Linked DNA regions of Homo sapiens: regions 1 and 3 are each linked to region 2. Evidence: fine-mapped expression QTL. A gene starts in region 2. Each other region holds a variant in brackets. All regions are shown on one strand. Distances are from middle to middle. Region 1 overlaps TNNT3 (troponin T3, fast skeletal type). Region 2 holds the start of LSP1 (lymphocyte specific protein 1). Region 3 has its middle 5.0 kb from the start of TNNT3.

Region 1 (4,196 bases), 84 kb after region 2:
GGGACAGCCCTGACCTCACCCTTGGGGCTCTCCCAGAGGGGCTGGCCCTGAGACGGGCTTCACGGCACAGGACCCAGGTCCTTCCCATGCTGTGTTCCCAGAGCTGAATCAGGGACCCACTGGCTTTGGATAGATGCGGCCACAGCGGGCCCCCAGGGGCTCCAGAGCCTGGAGGGCCATCACCAGGCCAAGCTAGCCCACAGCCGGGCCTCGATGCCCCAGCCGCCCATCCAGCCTTGTAACCATCTTGGTCTTTCTAGATCATGAATGTCCGGGCCAGAGTGCAGATGCTGGCCAAGTTGTAAGTAGCCGGGTCCGCCCTGGGCCAGGCCCGTGGGTGTGCGTTGCACGGTGAGGTGAACCTCTCGCATGGCAAAAACCTGGATCGCTCAGGATGCTGGCGGCAGGGGGCCTGGAGCCTTCCTCCTGCCCCCGCTCTCCCCTCGTGCCTGCAGCCGGGGGCTTCCCAGTGGCCGCTGCCCTGTTGGCAAGCGAGGAAGGGCCCCCACCTTCCCAGGAGCTCCGCCTCAAGCCAGCAGCGGCCACAGAGTGCCCCTGGGCACAGGCACGAGGGCGGGAGCGGCTGGCCCAGGAGCAGCAGGGCCGTTCGGAGCTCTGAGCTCAGCGGCTGAAGGGAGCTGGAGCTGAGAAGGAGGGGTCCGCAGGCCTCACCTGCAACCCCTCCCCAGCCCCATCCGTGCTCCGTACCCCCCGCCCCACATCCTGCCGCAGGCTGAAGGTAAGTGGCCAGCTACGGGCTGCTGTGTGTGGCAGTCCAGGCCAGTACAGGCTGGCGAGAGTAAGTCCAGGCATGAGCCCAGGGGCCACGGGACGGTGTCCCCCTGCACAAGGAGCCAGGAGACAGTAAGGGAGCCGAGGAGCCCTCATGGGGGCCCAGCAGCCCTGGGTCGCGCAGCCCAGCCCACCCTGCGGTGGAGACAGGCCTTCACCCAGTACACGCAGGCCTGGCCCTCGGGTCGTCGCAGTGAGTCACTCATGTTGTTCACAGATCACCACGCTCAGGAGCCGCATTGACCAGGCCCAGAAGCAGTGAGTAGCCCTGCCGTCCTCGCTCCGCACTGGGCACAGGGGCCCTTGGGGCCAGCCGCTGTAGCCAGTCCCTAACAAGGGCCGGTGGTGGCTGGCCTCGGCAGGGCAGTAACGAGACTAACCCGGCCAGGCCACCCAGGCCAGCATGCGCAGGCCTGTGGCCAGGGACCCGGAGCCTCCTCCCTCTCCTGCACGCAGGGGAGCCCTGGGGGGTGGCAGAGTCAGGAGGAGGGATCCCAATGGGGCTTGCCTGTCACGCCCTCGCCCCGAGTCTGGCACTGGCTGCAGGGAGAGGGCAGCCAGGGGACCCCTAGAAGGGGCTACTCGGGGGGCCTTTGGTGTGGCCAACCTGGGCCCCAGGGTATCCCGCCAGTGTCCCACCCTCCAAGGGGACCTAGGACAGGGAATTAAGCAGTCAGGGCTTCATCACCAGCCCCTCTGTGACGCTGGGCAAAATCATGGACTCCTCAGGATGGTGAAACCTCATCCATAAAATCGTGTCCCTGGGGGCTGTGGGATCCCTTGACACAGCTACTCGACCACCTGCATGGGGCTGCACCCAGGGTGCCCCCGGCGATGCCACGCTGGGGATCCTGTCATGGAGCCCAGCTGCACAGCCAGTGCCATTTCCCCAAGGATCGCAGTGTTTGGGGGCTACTTGGAGTTTCGATGTTTTCTGGGATTCTTCTCCCTCCTCCTGTCGCCTTGGCTTCCCTGCGGCGCCCAGGGCGGGCTCCTCCGTGGTGCACGTGACCTCACGGC[C/T]TCCCTGTTGTGCCGTCAGGGGTCATTGCAGACCCCTCTGAGGGTGGGCAGTCGGCGTGGTGTGCATGTGCCTGCGTGTGTGCATGTGTGCATGTGCCGAGAGTGCCCAGGAACGTGTGTGAGGGCACGGCCTTTGCCAGCCAGGTGTCCTGCTGAGCAGCCGCGTCTGAATGGGGCCGGCCTCGCGGGCCGAAGCACTCCTGTCCTCCACCCGCCTTCACCCCTCACCCGCACCCAGCTCCTCCCGGCTCGTGGCCACATGAAGACCTCAGACAAATGGGGCAGGCTCCTGGGCCCCTCAGAGGCCACCGTCTGGAGGGGCATGAGCTCTTTCAAGGCCAAGCGTCTAGGATTATATCATTATCTGCTAAGACAGTCTTCCCCAGCTCAGGGGTCTGTCTGCAGTGGTACCTCAGGCAAAGAAAGGAGGACAGAGGGAGGGTGCCCCGGGCTCACGTGCCAGCCCCCTAACCACACTAACGACCTAGGCCCGCCAGGCACAGGTGAGTGGGCACTGCCCGGACTGAAGCTGGGTGTGGGCCGCAAGCTTGGGCCGGGCCTGTGCCCTGAGAGCAGCCTGGGGTCGGGCTGAGAGTCCGCCCAGGGTGGGGGACCAGGAGGGGCATGGCCAGAGGCCCTGACCCTGAAGGATCACTTGCTTCCCATTTGCAGCAGCAAGAAGGCTGGGACCCCAGCCAAGGGCAAAGTCGGCGGGCGCTGGAAGTAGAGAGGCCAGAAAGGCCCCTCGAGGCAGAGACCCTCCGCCCTCTTGCACACCAGGGCCGCTCGTGGGACTCCACATCCTCCAGCCCCCACAATCCTGTCAGGGGCTCCCTGACAGTCCTGGGGGTGGAGAGGCCATCCCGGGGCGTCCCCCGCGTCTGTGTCCTTGCTGCCTTCATCCCCTGGGGCCTGTGAATAAAGCTGCAGAACCCCCTTCACAGTCTGTACTTGCTTCTGCATGGGGGCCCCGGAGGACACGAGAGGAGGCAGGTAGGGGCTAGCCAATGGCACAGCGTCCTGGTCATCCGCGGGGCCAGCTCAGGAGGGCACTGGCCAGTACGCGCAGGGCCAGCTCAGGAGGGCACTGGCCAGCACGTGCCACCTGCTGCTACGGCCAGGGCGGTGCCTGGATGCCCATCAGACGCTGCCCACAGCTTTTCCCTCTAAAACGTGGGCTCCATCCCCGCGCAAGCCTATAGGGCCCCTCCACTCTCCACTCCCATAGGGTCTTTGTGCAGAAGGGGGTGATCTGCAGGCCTCACCCCCAGCCCCAGACCCTGGCCATCTGCGCCAGCTGTCAATCCACTGGGGGCAGAGAAACTTTGCCTCGGGAGGGGGTGAGGGAGGAGGGCAGGGCTGCGAAAGAGACTTTGCCACCCCCCAGAAAGGCAGAGGCAGGCGGGAGCGGCTCCTGCGTGAGGGGTGCACCCCAGGCCCTGGTCGGGGAAAAACAGTGCAGGAGAGTGCACTCCCAGCAGACAGCAGGCAGGGAAGACACAGACAGCCTTCTCCGGAACGCAGGACAGCAGAGCGCACGCGGGTCGTAAATCTGAAAATCCTGACCAGAGAAAATTATGGAAAGTATAAATCATAGAAATTGGATCAAGACGCAGAGACTTGTACAGCAAAATATTCACAGAGGAAGGTTTGGAGTCCAGAACGGCCCCCAGAAAGACTCAGGGGCGGGCGGGCGGCCACATCCGGGAGTTCTGCTGCCGGGGATGGGGGCCAAGGAGCGGGGGATGGGGGGGAGCAGCACGGCCCCCTCAGTCTGCGATGGGGTTGGGGACAAGGCCAGGACCCAGAGGACAAAACAGAACCTCCAGATAGCATCACACACATGTGCAGACCCTGCAACACACACACACATAACATCACCCCCCACAACACACACACACAGAAACATCACCCCGCACACACACACATACAAATAATATCCCCCCCAACACATGCACACACAGAAACATCACCCCCCACAACACACACACACACAGAAACATCCCAGGTGTGTGACCCCACAACACACACAAAGAAACATCATCTGAGGTGTGTGACCCCACAACACATACACACACACACACACACACACACACACACACACTCCCACACTCCAGCCTGGGAAACAGAGTGAGGCCCTGTCTCTCTCTCACACACACACACACTCCCACACTCCAGCCTGGGAAACAGAGTGAGGCCCTGTCTCAAACACACACACATGCAGAAACTAACCAGAGTGAGACACTGTCTCAAACACACACACACAAAAGCAGAAACCAGAGACCCTGTCTCACACACACACACACACACACACACACTCCCACACTCCAGCCTGGGAAACAGAGTGAGACCCTGTCTCAAACACACACGCACAAGCAGAAACT
Region 2 (4,182 bases):
CTCCCAGCGACGATGCTGGGGCTGCCCTTCTGCAGGCCAAGGGAAGGACCTCAAGGGCAGGAGGACACAGGCATTGCACCTGCCGATGCAGTGCCTGGACGGGTGGGTGAGCGGAATGGCTGCAACCTGGAGGCGAGACCCTACCACCATGAGGGGAGCCGTTTCAGGATGGCCTCAGGATGGAGGCCGCATGGTGAGAACCGCAGGGCTCTGCCATGTGCCACTCTGCAAGGGGGACTTGGGGGCCCTTAGGGACCCCCAGGGAGGAGGCGTGGGGAAGACACAGGCATGGCCTGTTCATCTCCATGGCGCTGGGCCTGATCTGGTTTTAGCCCTGCCCATCGTCTGGGCCACGGATCCCTCTGGTGCCTCCACTCGTGGGGCTCTGAAAGCCTCTGCTGGTCTTTGTGGTGTGTTTGGTGGGTGGGGGGCTCGCTGAGTCCCAAGGAGGCGGCCTCCGGTTCGGCCCCACCCTGATGGGTCAACACTCTGGGCCCAGGGCCCTCCCAACCCCTGGCCTCTCTCCAGCCCCTCTTTGCCTTGGGACCCCCTGTAAGTCCTTGCTGGTTGGATTTCTCAGGCCCAGCCGCTGGCCAGGGCTCCCTTCTCCCATTCTCCTGCGCTGAGGTTTCCAGCAGGGAAGCCTTCGCCACCTCTGTGGCTGCCCTACTCTGGCCCAGCTTAAGTCCTCCCCTGCCTCAGCTTTTGGGGTCTGGCTCCTGCAGTCATGCATCCCTCCTCCTGACCCTGGAGCCACTGCGTGGTCACTCCCAGAAGCTGGGGACAGTGAGGGCTGGAAACAGCCTCCATCCCTCCCCTCGGGCTGGCCTATGCCTCTTGGGAGGGTCCCTGAGGCACTGCCTTTAGAGCCTGGGGACACGAACCACTCGGTGGTCAACTCCAGCGACCAGAGCACGGAGAGCAAGGGGCAGCGGGGGGACGAGGCGGATGCCCGACAGCTCGGCATCAGCAAGGCAGTCCAAGACAGAACAAGGCACCCGACGGGTAGAACGCAGGGGCATCCCGGGCACAGCCCCCAAAGCCACCTGGGACCCACAGCTGTTTGATGTGCTCAAGGCTATGACCCCAGGCTTCGAGAAAAGACTCCACCAAGTTCCATGAGCACCTGTAGGAGAGCCGGCCTCTGGGTAGATTTCACCCAAAGAAGCTAAAACGCTCACGTGGTGCTTATGGGATCACAGACGTGTTTGTCCCTGATGCTGCAGGAGAACTGGCCACTCACAGGTGGACCTGATGGCCAGAGCTACTAGCGGGGACCAGGGGTAACATGGGTCCCCCTCCCCGAGCCATGAAGAGCTGCCTGCGGCCATCTTGGCCCTCGCACCCCGTCTCTGTCACCCCAGGCCCCTGTAACTTGCTTAACGCTTCCTGAGGGGTGGTTTGGGTTTTTTTTTTTTTCTTCCTCTCCTCTTGTAGCAACAGATTAAAAAACAACACCCTGACCCAAGCCGAGACAGGTTCCAAACCTCAACCTGCAGCCGGAAGGGGGAAGTGAAACTCGGCTGGGGGTGGGGGCTCAGAAGCCGCCCCAGAAAGCACTGAAAGCCACAGCACGTACACCCACTCCAGGGATCTGCCAGCACCCTGTGGGGCCCAGACTACAGGCTGATGGCGGAGGCTTCGAGTGACCCGGGTGCCGAGGAGCGGGAAGAGTTGCTGGGGTAAGGGTCTGCGGCGACGCCCGGCGCCCTGTGCCGTGTCCACGGGTGCATAGTCCTTGAGCTGCATGGAGGGTGGAGAACTGAGGTGCCTGATGGGGAATCTGGGGCCCCCAATGGGAGAACTTGGATGTCCGATGGGGAAACTGGGGACCCACAGACAGGTGGCAGGAAGTCTTGCTGGGACCCCCCTCTCACAACAAGGGTGGAGGTCTCTTCCGCCTGCCTCTGTGCCCTGGACTCACTGGGGGAGGCGCGTGGGATCCTAAGCCCATGGTGGATGCCTGAAGCGAGGAGACCCCAAGACGTGTCCTGGACTGCCAGGGAGGAGCTGGGGACTGTGGGCCCTGTTAGCTTGGGAAGAGGCAAGGTGGGGGCTGGGGAGCAGCTGTTCTGGGATGGGTGGAACTGGCCCGGGCCTGGCCACCTGCCCACAGGACTATCTGAGAGGGGCTATCCTGCCTTGAGGGTCTGGAGGCCGCCAGGCTTGGGGCCCAGCAGGCCTCAGGGCAGGGCACCCAAAGCTGCCCTTGACCTGCGGTAAAGGACAAGGCCAAGGATTCTGGCAGGTGCCTGTGCTGGGTGCCAGGCACCGTGTGTTGGTTGGAGTGGGGACATGAGGGGGCATGGCAGAGGTTGTGTGTAGGACTGCCAGAGCTGGGCAGAAAAACCCCGCTGCCAAAGGCCTCCTAGCGGGCAGCTGTACTCTGTGGTACCAATGGGCATCCAGCCCTGTGCTGGGGTGGGTGGAGAGGGCTAGCGGCTTAGTAACTGGGCTCCCTGGCAGAGGGGAGCTGCCGGCCAGCAGGCATCCAGGCATCACAGCTGAGCCTCGCCAGGGGAACCCGAGTTGCCCCCGGTGCAGGTCCCAGAAGAGATGGGAGGGCTCAGGGCGTGCGGTGCAGGGACAGGTAGGGCTTTGAGGGGCAGAGGGGCGACGTGCTAATGGTCAGGGGATGGGGATCCGGTGCTGGGGATAGAGGCCGGCCTAGGAGCAGGTCAGCGGGGGCTGTGGCCTGGTGTGCGGAAGGGAAGGCGCTGGGGCCCAGGTTGCAGAAAGAGTGTGATGCCCGCAGCCACACAGGACGGACCTGAGAGGAGGCCCAGGGTGACGCTCACATACCCCAAAACTGCAGCCAGGGCTGCTACCAGTCTCTGCCTTGGTGCTGACAGCAGAGGGTCCCGGTCTACCCGACCCGGGGCGGTGCAGGGACCACCTCCCGGCCTTCACACAAAGCTCCTGTGCTGTTGGTGGCTGCAGTCACTGTCCTGTGTCTGTGTCCTTGGTGGCCGTCACATTGCTGTGGGTCTGGTATGTGTGAGGGGTCTGCATCTCTGACTTCTTGCTGCCAAATCCCACTTGGGTACAGGTGCGGGGGGCCACTGAAGGGACCCCGAGTGCCGTGAGTGGAGTGGAGGCTAAGCAGAGGCCGGGGCTGGCTGAGGGCTGGGTCGGGACGTCCGTGCCTGTCCCCAGGGAGAGGTGGGAGGATGCCCTGCCCAGGCCGTGTGCAGGGAGACAGGCTTCTGGGTGCACAACAGCTGTGTCCCAGCTGCAAAACGGGCCCTCCTGTCAGCACCACCCCCAGCCCTGGACTAGGTGCTGCTCCTGGTCACCTCATGCCCATAGAAGGGCAGGACATGAGCCTCTGGGCTGGGGCACCCCCGCCTTCCTCCTTGGCCTCATCCTTGGCCACCCCCTCCCAGCTGTCTCAAATGCCCTGGATCCCCCGGGCCAGGAGCGGGGAGGGGGGGTTGGAGCGGGCATGGCCAAGGCACAGATGATCCTGGGGCATCTTGGTGCAGATCCTGGGAGGCCAGGGCTGCACCTGTGCCGGGGCTGTCAGGCGCTCCAGCTGGAGAGCGGCGGTTCTCCTGGGCTCTGCAAAGCCTGGACCCCCTCCTTGGACATCCCCTGCCCCCGCGAATTGCATGGGGTGCGCAGCCAAGCCTGACCTTTCAGAATGAAACTGAGAGCCCCAGTGGGGTAGGCTTCTCATTTCACAAGGTGACTAAGGGAACCGGGGAGTTTCCTGTCTAGGATGGGACAGAAGTCCCCTGCACCCAGGCAGGGATGTATGGCCTGGGAAGCCCCCACACGGGAGTCCCCAGGAAGGCCCAGGCTGGGCAGGCTCAGCTGGGGCTGGAGCAGTGGACAAGACAGCCCCCCGTGCATGTCACAGAGTGCCAGGTACGCCAGCCTGTGACGGTCTCAGGACATGCCCTCAACACTAGGTCCAGGGCAGGCCAAGCCCCTCCAGCTGGACAAGTGGGTCCAGCCCCTCAGACTGTCGCATGATGTGGCCCCTCCCCTCAGACTGCCCGGGACGGGGCCAGATTCCTCAGAACCACCCCTCCATGATGTGGTCTCTCAGATGCCCCCAGGACAGGACTGTCCTCTCCCACGAGGCCTCAGGCCAAAGAAGGTCCCCTGACCCTGGGCGGGGTCCAGGCTCCGCTTCGGCTACCAGCCAGGCTGGACTGCGGTTCCTCCACTCGGGGG
Region 3 (4,196 bases), 61 kb after region 2:
AAACCATTTCTAAATTATTTATTTATTTTTAAGCCAGAGTCTCACTCTGTCGCCCAGGCTGGAGCGCAGTGGCGAGATCACGGCTCACCGCAACCTCCGCTTCCTGGGCTCAAGTGATGCTGTCACCTCAGCTTCCCAAGGAGCTGGGATTACAGGCACCTGCCACCACGCCTGGCTAATTTATTTTCATTTTTTGTAGAGATAGGTTTTTGCCATGTTGCCCAGACTGATCTGGAACTCCTAGGCTCAAGTGATCTGCCCTCCTCGGCCTTCCCAAAGTGCTGGGATTACAGGTGTGAGCCACTGCGCCCGGCCAACACAGCAGCAATATTTAATTTTGTTGATCTTCATTAATTTTTATTTTTCATTCTATTAACCTCCTATGTTTCTTATTATTTCCATTGCTTTCTTTCCCTTGGTTTTAGTGTTTTGTTCATTTCCTAATTTCATAAACTAGATGCATACTTATTAATACTTTCCCCTCTCTATTTTTTTGTTCTGGGGTAATCCATACTTTGTTTTCTTTGTTTTTTGGTTTTCCTCCTTTCTTTTTTTTGAGATGGAGTCTCGCTCTGTCGCCCAGGCTGGAGTGCAGTGGCACAATTTCGGCTCACAAACCTGCCTCCCAGCTTCGCGCCATTCTCCTGCCTCAGCTTCCCGAGTAGCTGGGACTACAGGCACCCACCACCACGCCCAGCTAACTTTTTTGTTTTTTTTTTTTTGTTTTTTTTTTAGTAGAGACGGGGTTTCACCGTGTGTTAGCCAGGCTGGTCTCGAACTCCTGACCTCGTGATCCGCCCGCCTCAGCCTCCCAAAGTCCTGGGATTACAGGCGTGAGCCACCGCGCCCGGCCCCCGCTTTCTGATATAAGCATCCAGGCCTCGCATTTCCCTCTGTCTTGTTTTAGCTGCACCCAGGGCTTTGCTCTGGGGTCTCCCATTCTCCTTCAGTTCCAGCCTCACCCACTCTCCCTGACCACGTCCCCTCTGATCCCTGAGCTATTCAGGTGTGTTTTTACTTTCTAACCCTTGCTGAAAGGGCCGCCTTCTAGTTAGTTGGGTTCTGACTTGGCCGCAGAGGGCAGACAGTTGGCTGGGGCATTCTCGTGTCCATGGCCAGCTTTGGTCACTGTCTCTCACGTGTCCTCTGGTTTGGAGGCTCTGCTTCAGTCCCTGTCTGTTCCACTAAGCCAAGTCGTTTCGTTCCAGTCCTAGACGCCTCACCCCGCGCTCTGCGGTGAGCACGAGCTGTGCACTGGGATCGCGGACTCCTTTTCCCTCGTCATGCTGCCACGGGCTCCCACTGCACTCCCAGTCCCAATTGCAGGATGCGTGGGGGACGGAGCCCCTGTCCATGGGTGGTGACCACCTCTGTGCCCAGCATAGCTGCTTGCCTCCTGTCCATTTGGTGCTCCTGGGGGGCCTTTCAGAACCAGGCAGCACAGCAAGATTGGTGACATCCAACCAACAGATTTCACCCGGGCGTACCCCGGTTCCCACCTGTGCATTACCCAATGAACACGCCTGGTTGGGCGCAGCGTAGCTGAGACTCCCATGTGCAGGCCTGCTGTGGGGGTGCAGGCCCACGGTGCACATTGGTGTGTGTTGTGGGGTCACACACCTGGGATGATGTTTCTGTGTGTGTGTGTGTGTTGTAGGGTCACACATCTGGGATGATGTTCTGTATGTGTGTGTGTGTTGTGTGTGGGGTCATGCACCTGGGATGTCTCTCTGTGTGTCTGTATGTGTTGTAGGGTCACGCATCTGGGATGATGTTGCTCCTTATGTGTGTGTGTGTTGTGTGTGGGGTCACACACCTGGGATGATGTTTCTCTGTGTGTGTGTCTGTGTGTGTGTTGTTGGGTCACACACCTAAGATGTTTTTCTTTGTGTGTGTGTGTGTGTGTTGTGTAGTCACACACCAGGGATGATGTTGCTCTGTGTATGTGCCTATGTGTGTTGTAGGGTATATACACCTGGGGATGTTGCTCTGTGTGTGTGTGTGTGTGTGTGTGTGTTCTGGGGTCACACACCTGGGGATGATGCTCTGTGTGTGTTGTGGGGTGTACAAACCTGGGGAGGATGTTGCTCTGTGTGTGTTCTGGGGTCACACACCTGGGGATGATGTTGCTCTGTGTGTGTGTTGTGGGGTCACACACCTGGGATGTTTCTGTGTCTTTGTGTGTGTGGGTTGTGGGGTGTACACACCTGGGGAGATGTTGCTCTGTGTGTGTTGTGGGTGTACAAACCTGGAGATGTTTCTGTGTGTGTGTGTGTGTGTGTGTGTGTTGTGAGGTCACACACCTGGGATGATGTTGCTCTGTGTGTGTCTGTGTGTGTGTTGTGAGGTCACACACCTGGGGATGATGTTTGTGTATGTGTGTGTTGGGTGTACAAACCTGGGGATGATATTTCTCTGTGTGTGTGTTGTGGGGACACACGGATGATGTTTGTGAGTGTGTGTGTGTATGTGTTATGGGGTCACACACCTGGGATGTTTCTCTGTGTCTGTGTGTTTTGTGGGGTCACACACCTGGGATGATGTTT[C/CTGTGTG]TGTGTGTGTGTGTGTGTGTGTGTGTGTTCTGGGGCCACACAACTGGGATGATGTTTCTCTGTGTGTGTGTGTGTCTTGTGGGGTGTACACACTTAGGGATGATATTGCTATGTGTGTGTGTTCTGGGATCACATCCCTGGGGATGATGTTATTCTCTGTGTGTGTGTTGTGGGATAGGACATCTGAGATGATGTTTCTGTATGTGTGTGTCTGTGTGTTGTGGGGTCACACACGTGGGATGATGTTTCTGTGTGTGTGTGTCTGTGTGTGTATGTTGTGCGGTCACGCACCTGGGATGATGTTTCTGCGTGTGTGTGTATGTGTTGTGGGGTCACACACCTCAGATGATGTTTCTTTGTGTGTGTTGTGGGGTCACACACCTGGGATGTTTCTGTGTGTGTGTGTGTTGTGGGGGGTGATGTTTCTGTGTGTGCATGTGTTGGGGGGGATATTATTTGTATGTGTGTGTGTGCGGGGTGATGTTTCTGTGTGTGTGTGTTGTGGGGGGTGATGTTATGTGTGTGTGTTTTGGGGGGGTGATGTTTCTGTGTGTGTGTGTGTTGTGGGGAGGTGTGTGTGTTGGGGTGATGAGTGGATGTGTGGATGGATGGATGGAGGGAGGGATGGATGGATGAAGGGAGGGTGGATGAAGGGAGGGAGGGAGGGATGGATGGATGCATGAATGGGTAGATGGATAGATGAAGAGATGGATGGATGGATGGATAGACAGGTAGATGGATGGGTAGATAGATGGATAGGTGGGTGGATGAATGGATGGATAGACTAATGATGGATGGATGGATGGATGGCGGGAGGGATAGATGAAATGGAGGGATGAGTGGATGGGTAGGTGATTGTATGGGTGGTTGAAAGGATGGACAGACGGAGGGATGGATGATGGAAGAGAAGGAGGGAGGAAGGAAGGAAAGGAAGTGGTGAAGGTGAGAGTGAATGCATGGGAATGAATAGATGGGTGGATGAATGGACAACTGTGTGAAATAGCAGACAGCCTGGGGACACCCTCCCTCCTGTCCCTCCTCTCCCAGGTCTTGCACTGGGCCCTGACACTCAGCCCTGCAGCCTTCAGCGTCTGGGAAGTCCCTTCGAGGAGCAGCACCCCAGACTCTGATGTTCTGGACTTCACTTTGCCATTCCCTTGGGTCCTCACAGCCACTATTTTCTGAAGGCTTCATGTCAAACCCTGCTTGCCTCATGAATACACACAGTTCAGAAAAGCAAAACCTCGACAGAGCCACCACCCACACAAGGGAGGTGACGTGCCCCCATCCTTTCTCAGATGCCCCAGCCACTGAGAGAGGATCCAGGCCACCCTCCCCAGCTGGGGAACCACCCAGTGACAGCACTCCCCTTGTTTCCCACCTGATCCGCTTGGGACGGTGACCAAGGGCAGCCGAGAGGCAGGCCCAAAGGCCACAGTTGGGCACTCAGCACTGGGGTGCAGAGTGGACAGCACCAGGGGCAGGGGGTAGTTGGGGTCAGCAGTGCTGAGGAGGCAGCCACTGCCCACCCCGCCCCCGACCAGCCCTGGCCCCTTGTCAGATCATCTGCACCCCTCGGCTCAGCCTCGAGAACAAGGACCCAGGGCCTGTCCCTCTGAGCTCTACCCAGCCACAGCCCTGCTGTGTTTC

The links. PIP is the estimated chance that this variant, and not a neighbour inherited with it, causes the effect.
Region 1: its variant is the best candidate, but not a certain one, in a credible set for the expression of LSP1 in whole blood (INTERVAL, PIP 0.60).
Region 3: its variant is the best candidate, but not a certain one, in a credible set for the expression of LSP1 in whole blood (INTERVAL, PIP 0.73).

The regions. Positions count from the first base shown.
Region 1 is chr11:1,935,954-1,940,149 of GRCh38, forward strand. It overlaps TNNT3 (troponin T3, fast skeletal type), which reads left to right. Exons shown (of 16, transcript NM_006757.4): 15 at 1,010-1,050; 16 at 2,485-2,749. The coding sequence ends at 2,539. Among named protein-coding and RNA genes, the nearest start is that of MRPL23, 9.3 kb to the right of the region's middle. RefSeq lists an enhancer at 1-402. The variant C/T (reference allele first, on the strand shown) is at 1,813.
Region 2 is chr11:1,851,516-1,855,697 of GRCh38, forward strand. It overlaps LSP1 (lymphocyte specific protein 1), which reads left to right and starts at 1,569. Exons shown (of 11, transcript NM_002339.3): 1 at 1,569-1,682. The coding sequence starts at 1,630. RefSeq lists enhancers at 300-349, 1,341-1,660, 3,511-3,940.
Region 3 is chr11:1,912,593-1,916,788 of GRCh38, forward strand. It overlaps a transcript of PRR33 not described here. Among named protein-coding and RNA genes, the nearest start is that of TNNT3, 5.0 kb to the right of the region's middle. RefSeq lists a silencer at 3,829-3,878. The variant C/CTGTGTG (reference allele first, on the strand shown) is at 2,547.